Regions from separate parts of the Homo sapiens genome. Here region 2 is linked to region 1. The links come from fine-mapping of genetic effects on gene expression. A gene starts in region 1. The other region holds a variant in brackets. All regions are shown on one strand. Distances are from middle to middle. Region 1 holds the start of TLR6 (toll like receptor 6). Region 2 overlaps TLR6 (toll like receptor 6).

Evidence for each region.
Region 2: its variant is fine-mapped to the expression of TLR6 in monocytes after LPS (Quach 2016, PIP 0.91).

What each region holds. Positions count from the first base shown.
Region 1 is chr4:38,854,708-38,860,094 of GRCh38, forward strand. It overlaps TLR6 (toll like receptor 6), which reads right to left and starts at 2,110. Exons shown (of 2, transcript NM_006068.5): 1 at 2,054-2,110. RefSeq lists an enhancer at 2,559-3,758.
Region 2 is chr4:38,828,273-38,833,659 of GRCh38, forward strand. TLR6 (toll like receptor 6) reads right to left here. Exons shown (of 2, transcript NM_006068.5): 2 at 1-1,265. The coding sequence starts at 1,201. Among named protein-coding and RNA genes, the nearest start is that of TLR6, 26 kb to the right of the region's middle. RefSeq lists an enhancer at 3,195-3,364. The variant A/G (reference allele first, on the strand shown) is at 3,184.

The DNA of each region.
Region 1 (5,387 bases):
TTTAGCAATTCCACTACAAGGAATTTTCTAAAGAAATAGTCAAAAATAACACACAGAAGATATGACTATAAGGATACTCATGACATAATGAAATATTGAAAAAATCAGAATGTCTAGTGTAGAAAATGATTAAATCAGTTATGTATAATTAAATAATAGCCTCAAATACTGTACTTTGAAAAAATGATAATGTTAAATGAATACAGTAATAGAAAATTATGGCCGGGCGCAGTGGCTCACGCCTCTCATCCCAGCACTTTGGGAGGCCAAGGCGGGTGGATCACGAGGTCAGGAGATCGAGACCATCCTGGCTAACGGTGAAACCCCGTCTCTACTAAAAAAAAATACAAAAAAATTAGCCGGGCGTGGTGGCGGGCGCCTGTAGTCCCAGCTACTCGGGAGGCTGAGGCAGGAGAATGGCGTGAACCCGGGAGGCGGAGCTTGCAGTGAGCCGAGATCGTGCCGCTGCACTCCAGCCTGGGCGACAGAGCAAGACTCCGTCTCAAAAAAAAAAAAAAAAAATTATATATGTAGTAAGACTCTAATTTTGCAAAATATGATTAAAACCTGACATATACGTAAAAGCTAGAGGACAAACAATGTGATGAAATATACCAAATACTAATAATAGTGGTTCTCTGAATCTCTGAATTATAGATGAATTTAATTTTCTTTCTTATACTTTCAGATATCCCTAAAATGTCTCATTTTGAATGTCCTTTATAATCCAAAAAAGTTATCGTAAGGCAATTTAAGAGTTGTCTTTATAGCTGTGTGAAAATATTTTATATTTAAAGAAACGTGCTTGTTTTATTTGGAATATTAAAATATAAAGATGGAGAACTTTCAGATAATAGTAGATAACTGGCATTCACAGATGAGGACCTACCCTACAGGTCCCCGGCAACCAGACCCACGGTGTCTGGGTTCATGGGACTGAAAATCAGTCACCAGGTGGAAAAGCTGGTCAGCTGTCCTTATGGTATCCTGCCACAAAAACGCAATATTCCTCCAGAGGCGTTCATACCCTGAGGCAGTTCCTAGGGAATACACTAAATGAACAAGATAGTAACTTTTCTATTTATTGGGAAAAAAGGAGGGAAAAATGGGAAGATGAGAGTGGAAGATTAGAGAGTTCACAGTTTTTTAAAGAAAGTAAAAATAAACAGGTAAATGCTCTTGATTTTTTAAATGCATCAAATAAAAAGGGTGAGGAAATAGATGAAATAAGCTACATTTCAGAAAAAAAGGGTAGACAAGACCTATGAAAATTAAAACTACAAGGAAGAAGAGAGCAGAAAAAAAATTAAGTGAAATAAGTGGAGGAAAGATCACATAATCAAGTTAACAAATAGGCAAGAAAAACATTGTTTCATTTGTCAAACTGAAGGTGGAAGGACCTGGAGGAAGGCAATTGCTACACTGTGCCAGATTCAAGCTTGTGAAGGGGCTTGGTCCCGGCCACTTCCTCCATTTAATAAATGTTTATTCAGAGTCTATTTTTCTGCCAGTGCCATGCTACGCACTAGGCACCAGGGATATAAATATGAATAGGACTGACATAATTCCTGCTTTCAAAAAGCTTATGAATTAGGGACAGACACAGACCAGCAAACTGTTACAGTGACAAACGACAAGGGAGATCAAACACACGTCTGCTGTAAAAACATATAATAAATAGGTGCCATATCAGTGGTATATAAAAATTACTGTTAAATGTTACTGAAAACAATAAACTAGAGAAAGACGAAAAGAGAAAATTCGCTGGGCCAAATCAGAAGAAATAAATAACATTAGTTTTGTTCCTTAATTATCACCACAAGCGCTAGTTGTTTTCTATCTTTTCAAGACAGCTGTAAAGACGCTGCTCTTCATCCTGCTCGTGAAATTCAAAGGACATTTGCAACATCTACAAAAAAAACCACTTCAAATCATTTTGCAAAAATTTCAAGGAAACATTACCTATTTCCTATATAATGAATGGTTAGCAAACTTGCTTACTTGAAGCACCTGTGCCATAATGTGAAAAAGCCACAGAAGTCTTTCTACTTACCAAGATCTCTTTTTCAGAAGAAGAGAAAATAACTTGTAAATGAACGGAAATACAATTGAAAATGCTTGACAAACACAAGTTCTTAAAGTTGAGTAAAGCGGTACCTTAGAAACAGATTGGTGCCATCTGTTGGCCCACACTGGAATTACTCCTACGTATATTTTTACCTTTCAAAGGTCCGGAGGTGAGTTAGCAGTTTTTTCTGGGCTACAGACAAAACCAGTAATCCAATTTTCTAATTCGTGTGAGGAAGCAACTTACAAACAATTCAATGTGAAGAAAAATATTTTTCTAAGGTAATATTTCTCTGTAAGAGTTTGCAGCCTGGTTATTACATTTGTCACCTGAGTGGAAAGTTATTTTAAACAGCCTGTTTTCTATTATCACCATATTTAACATTTCAAGAATAATTGCAGTTTCCCTTATCAAGCAATTTTGAGCATTATTTTAGCTGGATGAGATAGTTTAAAATAAAATAAGTATAGTTCCACAATTTGGGTTTTTTTTTAAAAATCAACTTCTAAGGAAAGTTTACTGGTTGATACATATTTATGACTACATATTTAGCCATATGTACGAGCAATCATACCCACATTCTGATCAACATTTGGTGTTATTAAATGGTTTAGATTTTAATTTAGGAATAATAAATAACACTGAAATCCTGCAAGACTAATTTAAAAATCAATTTTCTAAAGACCATTTAGAAGAATTTCAGAATGACATCAACAAAGGCTGATTACCAGAAGTCTCTGGTTAAACAGAGACTTCTGGTGGACAGTAAACCCTTTTCCCCAGACTTCTTGCTTAACTGAGTTCTGCAAAGGACAGAAGGCATGAGTGAAACAATCATTCTATAATTTATCTCACTGTCTGGCACAATCTCATCTTTATTAAAAAAAAAACAACAACAAGTTAAGACCTTACAATTTGGCTAATGACAAAGTTGGACATCTCCGTAAGAATCACTTCTGCTTTCAGGAGGAAGAGAAAGGCTGGCTTCTTGTGATTCATCCTTACTCATCAAACATAACAGGAAGTCTCCTCAGGCCTGGGGAGGCTCAGTAAGGAGTGGATGGATCTCTGCTCCACTGGCAAAAGGAGACAGCCAGAAAGCAGCAGGTATCTGTGACCCTGGAAAACCAGATTTGTGAAACAAGCCAAGGGAAAGGGCTGGCTGTGGCTCTGAGGGAATTTCAAGTAACCGTGGACTAAAGTCTTAAGAAAACAGACAACTATCACTGCAGATCTGGGCACATTGACATGTCTCATTAGGAGATTGCATCACAACACCAATGTTCAGAAACAAGGAGACTATTCTTGTCGAGGCTGTCATAACTCAGAAACGTCTGTAAGGGGATGACAAAAACACAAAAATCAAGTAATAGCGAAGATGGCAATGACAGTTAAGCAAACAAAGAAACAGACAGTACTGGGCCGAACCTCCACTTGGCCACTTACTGTGAGGCTTGGGACAAGTCCCTTAACCTCCATTTATTCATCCACAAAATGGGAGTACTTTTAGGAAAGATAATGAATTTAAAGTGGCTGGAATAGTGACTGACACAGAAGAGAAGTCATAATAGTAAGGAGTTTGGTGCAAATCATATAGTTTTTTTGTATGCTGAGGGGTAAAGATTTCAGGATATACTATGAAGTGAAGAAAATCAAGGTGCAGGCTGGGCACGATGTCTCATGCCTGTAATCCCAGCACTTCGGGAGGCCGAGGTGGGTAGATCACCAGAGGTCAGGAGTTCGAGACCGGCTTGGCTAACATGGCGAAACCCTGTCTCTACTAAAAATACAAACATTAGCTGGGTATGGTGGCAGGCAACTGTACTCCCAGCTACTCGGGAGGCTGAAGCAGGAGAATCATTGGAACCCAGGAGGCAGAGGTAGCAGAGAGCTGAGATTGTGCCACTGCACTTCAGCCTGGGCAACAGAGTGAGACTCTGGCTCAAAAGAAAAAAGAAAGAAAGAAAGAGAGAGAGAGAGAGGGAGAGAGAGAGAGAGAGGGAGAGAGAGAGAGAGGGAGAGAGAGAGAGAGAGAGAGGGAGAGAGAGAGAGAGAGGAAGAAAGAAAGAAAGAAAGAAAGAAAGAAAGAAAGAAAGAAAGAAAGAAAGAAAGAGAGAAAGAAAGAAAGAAAAGAAAGAAAGAAAATTAAGGTGCAGAACTGTAAGAAGAGTATGACATCAATTGTATAAAATCTAGCCATTTACACAGGTTATCTTCTTGCCAGGCATTGCTGTGACTACTTTCCAAGTATTAACTCATTAAGGTGCTGTGAGATAAGTACTGTCACGTCATCTCCACTTAGCGCAGCTGGGTAATCGTTCCAGCTTGCACTGCTGGTCAGTGGTGGGGGTGGGATTCGAACCCAGGCAGTTTGGCCCCAGTGCCTATGCACTTAAGCATCATACTATGCTGCCTTAGAAGACACCCTGTGTCCTCATAAGACACACAGAGAAGAGAGATACAGAGAAGCAGAGCATTTGCAAACAGAGGCAGAGACTGGGGTATTGCAGTCACAATGCAAGGGATGTCTGGAGCCACCAGAGGCTGGAGAGAGCATCACCCTATGAACAGCTTGATTTTGAACTTCTAGCCTCCAGAACTCTGAGAGAATGAATTTTTGTTGTTTTAAGCCACACAGTCTGTGGTGATTTGTCATGGTAGCCACAGGAAACTTAATACAAGGGTCTACATACATATGTTGATAGAGGCATATGAATCTTTTTTTCTCAAAAGATACATAAGAAATGTTCACCTTTGAGCAGAAGAACTAAGAGAAATAGATTATTGGCCTTTTTTTTTTTTTTTTTGAGACAGGGTCTCGCTCTGTTGCCCAGGGTGGAGTGCAGTGGCGTGATCACAGCTCACTGCAGCCTTGACTTTCCCCACTCAGGCGATTCTCCCACCTCAGCCTCCCAAGGATCTGAGACCACAGGCATCCACCACCATGCATGGCTAATTTTTATATTTTTTTGCAGAGACAGGGTTTTGCCATGTCGCTCAGGCTGGTCTGGAATTCCTGGGCTCAAACAATCCGCCCACCTCAGCCTCCCAAAGTGCTGGAATTACAGGATTGAGCCACCCCGCCCGGCCTCTTCACCATTTTATGCTTTTTGTCCTATTTGAATTCTTCACTATATATAGATATGTATATATGTCTTAATTTTTAAAAAATAGTGTCACACTGGGTTAAGTATTATAAACATAATCTGAGGCCACCCAATACACTGTCCCAATACAGACACAGGCAAAACATTATTTTGATGACTTTTACTTGTTAAAAAATGTTGTCTTTCTCCAGATAATAAATAAATAAATAAAT
Region 2 (5,387 bases), 26 kb before region 1:
CCTTCGTCATGAGACCTACTTTGAAAAGGTCTTTTAATCCATTCTTTTGTAAGATAAGTGTCTCCAATTTAACTAACGTGGAACATTTTTCAAAAATACTATCTGTGAAAACGTTCTGGGTAAAGTTCAAAAACTTGAATGTGCTTGGTGCATGAGGACACAGCATGTGTATAAAAGGTGTATCTGAAATGGTTAACATCATAATGTTCATCTCAGAAAACACGGTGTACAAAGCTGTCTGTGAAAACAGAAAAACTTGGTTCGTGATATGTTCTATTGTCAATGCTTTCAATGTCGTTTTAGAATAAGTAAAATCTTCTTCACGAATGCTTTCAATTATTGTTAAATTGTAAATATTGAGATATTCCACAGGTTTGGGCCAAAGAAATTGAAAGACTCTGACCAGGCATTTCCAAGTCGTTTCTATGTGGTTGAGGGTAAAATTCAGTAAGGTTGAACCTCTGGTGAGTTCTGATAAAAATTTAATGAAAACTTGACAGTTGTCATCATTCAATTTAATATTAGTCAGTTGTAAGCACCCTAAAGTATTAACTGATATGTTCACTTGGATAGCGAATAAACTAGTTGGGTGAAAAACAAGGTGAAGGGTTTTTGCATTCAGAATTTGTAGACTTTCTGTCTCATTTTCTTTTATATAATAATTTCTTAAATCCAGAAGGATATAACTTAGATGCAAGTGAGCAATTGGCAGCAAATCTAATTTTTGCAGCTTCATAGCACTCAATCCCAAGAAATTCAGTTGTGATAAGTTGCCAAATTCCTTACAGATGGGCAGGGCCTTGAAATCATTGAATGAGAGATCTAAATGCCTGAAACTCACAATAGGATGGCAGGATATCTTTTGCAACTGATTATGAGATAAATCCAAATATTCTAAATCCTGGTTGAACTTGAAAACACTTAAATCAAGTAGCTGGATTCTGTTATGGGAAAGTCTCAAAACTGTCAACTCTGATAGAAAGCTCATGTCAGAGACCTGAAGCTCAGCGATGTAGTTCTGAGACATATCTAAGACTTTGGTTTTCAGCGGTAGGTCTTTTGGAACATGAATAAGACCTCTTTTTGACTTGTCTACTGCAAATTCATTTCCGTCGGAGAACTGGATTCTGGTTCCAACTATTATGATCATAAGGCAAACAAAATGGAAGCTTTTAACAATAGGTTCTTTGTCTTTGGTCATGATGTTGCAGTGGCTATCCTAAAGGGTTGTTCTTCTTCAGAGCATCTTGATATGAGTCCAAATTCTAGAAATATAATATACACTAAGATTAATAAAGATCGGATGGTTACTCTCAAACCTCCACTTACTAACCATAAAATCTAAATGATTTCTTCATTCACTAGTAGAGTCATTTCTGTCCCCATAATTTAATGTAATACTTTTTATAACCAGTTATATAGCTTGCTCATGCCAGAAGGGGCAATATAGGCCTTGTTATCAAAGAATTGTGGTTGTGTGTTTTGACCTGTCTGGTTGCTGCCTGAGGGATTCACACTCAGGGGCTTGCCTTTGTTTTGTACACCTTAGAACTTTCTCAGGGCTGGAACAGCCTTCTGGCTGGTGTTTGCTGTAAACAATTAAAGGCAAACATACTAGCTGCAGCCACCTGAGCAAGGGCTAACAGAGGGGGCAAGCAGCAGACACATCAAAAAGTCTGGGAAATATGCAAAGATATATGGAGAAAGATATGTGGGAGAAAAAAGGCTGAGGAAATCTCTGTATATACCAGGGAGTCCAGAAGTCCACTCACGTGCCCAAGGCTGGACGCATGTTCAGAGGAGACCTGAGAAAATCCTAAACTTCACCTCTGGCTCATCTTTAGCTTCCATGCATGCAGAAAGTGAAGGCTAAAGCAGAGCTGTGAATAGACTGGCTAAGCATTGAGAAAGTGATCCAACACAGCCAACCTGCAAAGATCAGGGGTGTTTTTGTTTTTGCTTTTGCTAGTTTATTTGGTTTTTGTTTTTGCTCCAGATGTTTAAAGAAATCTCAAGTTACTGGCTGACCACTAAGCTAACTGGACAGAAAATGTAATAGCCACACATGACAAAGAATAATCTTTATAAAAATTATTTAGAAAAGTCATTAAACAAGCAACTATAAGCCACAAGAAGCAACAATACACCCTGGGAAAGGGAGGCCCGGCACAGTGGCTTAAGCCTATAGTCCCAGAACTTGGGGAGGGCAAGGCAGGTGGATTGCTTGAGTCCAGGAGTTCAAAGCCAGCCTGCGCAACATAGTGAAACTCCATCTCTACAAAAAATACAAAACTTAGCTGGGCATGGTGGCGTGTGCCTATAGTCCCAGCTACTTGGGAGGCTGAGTGGGAGGATTGTTTGGGGCCGAGGAAGTCGAGGCTCCAATGAGCTGTGATTACACCACTGCACTCCAGCCTGGGTGACAGAATGAGACCCTGTCAAAAAATAAATAAATAAATAAATAAAACACCTCTGGGAAAGGGGGACAGAATTTGATTTCTAGAGTTACCTCATTGTAGTGTTTAAAATGTCTGATTTAAAAAAATAAAAATCAAAACAAAATAATCACTAGCCCCCAGATTTGCCAGTGGACTTGCTCTACGTTTTGCCCTGAAATAACACAAACCTTGCAAAAAGCAAATGGAAAGAGATTGTTATCTTTTTGATTGTGTAACTTGGCATTAAAGGAATCTCTAATTTATTTGTTTAAAAAAATTAGCCATGCAAAGAAACAGAAAGTATTGTTCATTCACAGGAAAAAAAAAAAAAAGAAATTAAAAGAACAAAGCCAGATAACTGACACCACCTAACATTGAGACTTGCTACAAAGCTACAGCAATCAAGGCAGTGTGGTTTTGGTGAAAGAATAGACAAATAGGTCAAATGACCAGAATACAGAGCTTAGAAATAGACCCACAAAAAAATAATCAACTGCTGTTTGACAAACGAGCAAAGGCAACTCAGTGGAGAATGGATAGTCTTTTCAACAAATGGTGCTGGAACAATTAGACCTCCACATGCAAAAAAAAAAAAAGAAGAAGAAGAGAAAGAATTTAGACGCAGACCTTACAGTTTTCACAAAAATCAGCTCAAAATTAACCATAGACCTAAATGTATAATGCAAAACTATAAAATTTCCAGAAGATAACATAGGAGAAAATCTAGGTGACTTTGGATTTGGTG[A/G]TGACTTTTGAGATACGCATCAAAAACATAATCCAAGAAAGAAAACACTGTTAAGTTGGACTTCATTAAAATTAAAATTTTTGCTTTGCAAAAGACACTGCAAGAGAGTGAAAAAGACAAACCACAGACTCAGAGAAGATATTTGCAAAACCCATATATGATAGGGACTTGTATCCAAACTATGCAAAGAACTCTTAAGCTCCACAATAAGAAAACAAACAACCTAGTTTTTAAATGGGCACAAAAATCTAAACAGACACCTCACCAAAGAAGATATGTAAAGAGCAAATACACATATACATAGCTATTTGACATCATATTTCATCATGGTTTTGCAGATTAATACAGCAATGAAATTACATTACACTTATGAGAATGGGTAAAATCCAAAAACAACATCAAATGTTGGTGAGGATGTGGAGCAACAAGAACTCTCTTTCACTGTTTGTGGGAATGCAAAATGGTGCAGCCACTATGGAATGCAGTTTCTTATAAAACTAAGCATAGTCTTATCACACAATCCAGCAAATCACATTCCTGGGTATTTAACCAAAAGAACTGAAAATTTATGTCCACATAAAAGCCTCCATGTGGATGTTTATAGAAGCTTTATTCATAACTGTCAAACATTGGAAGCAACAAGATATCCCTCAATAGATAAAAATATTAACAAACTGGTACATTCACACAATAAAATACTATTGAACAATTAAAAAATGAGCCGGAGAAGCATTAAAATGGCTGAATAGAGGCACCTAGCCCTCACCCCCTCTGCAAAGAAGGACCAAAACAGTGAGCAGATAATCACACATTGAATGAGCATCTAAGAGAGAACACTGGAATTCAGCGGAGAAGTGACAGTGCACCTCTGAGGCATGGGAGAAGAGGGAAGTGAAGCAGCCAGCCCAGCTGGGACTAGCTCAGAACCAGGAGGAACTTCCCATTCCAGGGAAAGTTTAACTGAGAGATCTTCAGAGGTCAATGTTTCCACTATGGACTCCTGTAATCCTAGCCATGAGCTAGCTCCTTGGCCTTCACATGCCCTGGGGCTGTCTGGAATATATGCAATCACATTGTTCCACAATGGGACTTCACATTGGGTCCCACATACCCCATACCCTGAGACCCAAACAGCTTCAGCATAAGGCTCTTTTAAGAGCCCAGCCCTCACCATACACATCCTGTTCTGGGGCCCAACAACCCTGAATCTCCACACCCCTGAAGCCCCACTGATATTCTCCTACGTCCACCTAGAGGGCTACAGCATTGTAATGCCAGCTAAGATCAGCAGTGCAGCTAGGTCCCCAGCACTCTAGCCCATGCAATGCCCCGCATCCCAGGAAACAGGAAGCACAGTGCACCTAGTGGCTTTCCCTGGGACAAAGGGAGTCAAAGTGTGCATTCCCCAGAGCCTCAGAGTTACCTGCCCAGGGCCACCGCCACTTACAGCAACCCCATCTTCCCTAGCAGCAGGACTACGACACATCTACACATGCCTCCAAGGGGCCTGAGGACAGGTCCACCATGCCCTTTGCTGCTAGTGCCTGCCTGCCACTGCCATGGCAGGGCAGTGCCACACAGGGTGTGGCACATGCATGCCACACGGGGTCCTGAGGACTGGCTTGCCCAGCCTGCTGCTGCCTGTGTCTACCACTTGGGGGCCAGAGGGTTGGTCCACTTTTCCTACTGCTACAGTTAATGCCACACAAATTGTGCAGGGGCCCAAGAACCTGCCCTCCCACTTGGTCCATTACTGCCACTGCAAGCATCCAACTAAATCTCCTGGAGGCTCAAGGACCCATCACCACGAGTGCCCACATATTTCACACAGGGGCCTGAGAACCGGCAAGCCTAGGCCACTGCTGCCACCACTGTTGCCTGAGAACAGGCCTGCCTGGTGTCCCCATCCCCAGCAAAGCCTTGCCATAGTGTCTGCTGACAACTGTAACCTAAGCCACTGAGGAACCCAAATGCCACTGACACTGATGACAGGTGAAGAAATCATACAGAAACTACACTGCTGTGCCCACTCAGAATCAAAGCCAAAGCACCCTATACTCAACTAACACTATAAAAACACCTAGAGGCAAAAGTCTTTCCCTATCAAAGCCAATCCATAAAATTGGAAGCAGCAGCTATTACATCAGATCCATAGATATCAACATAAGGACACAAGAAATACAAAAGTGCAAGGAAACATGAAG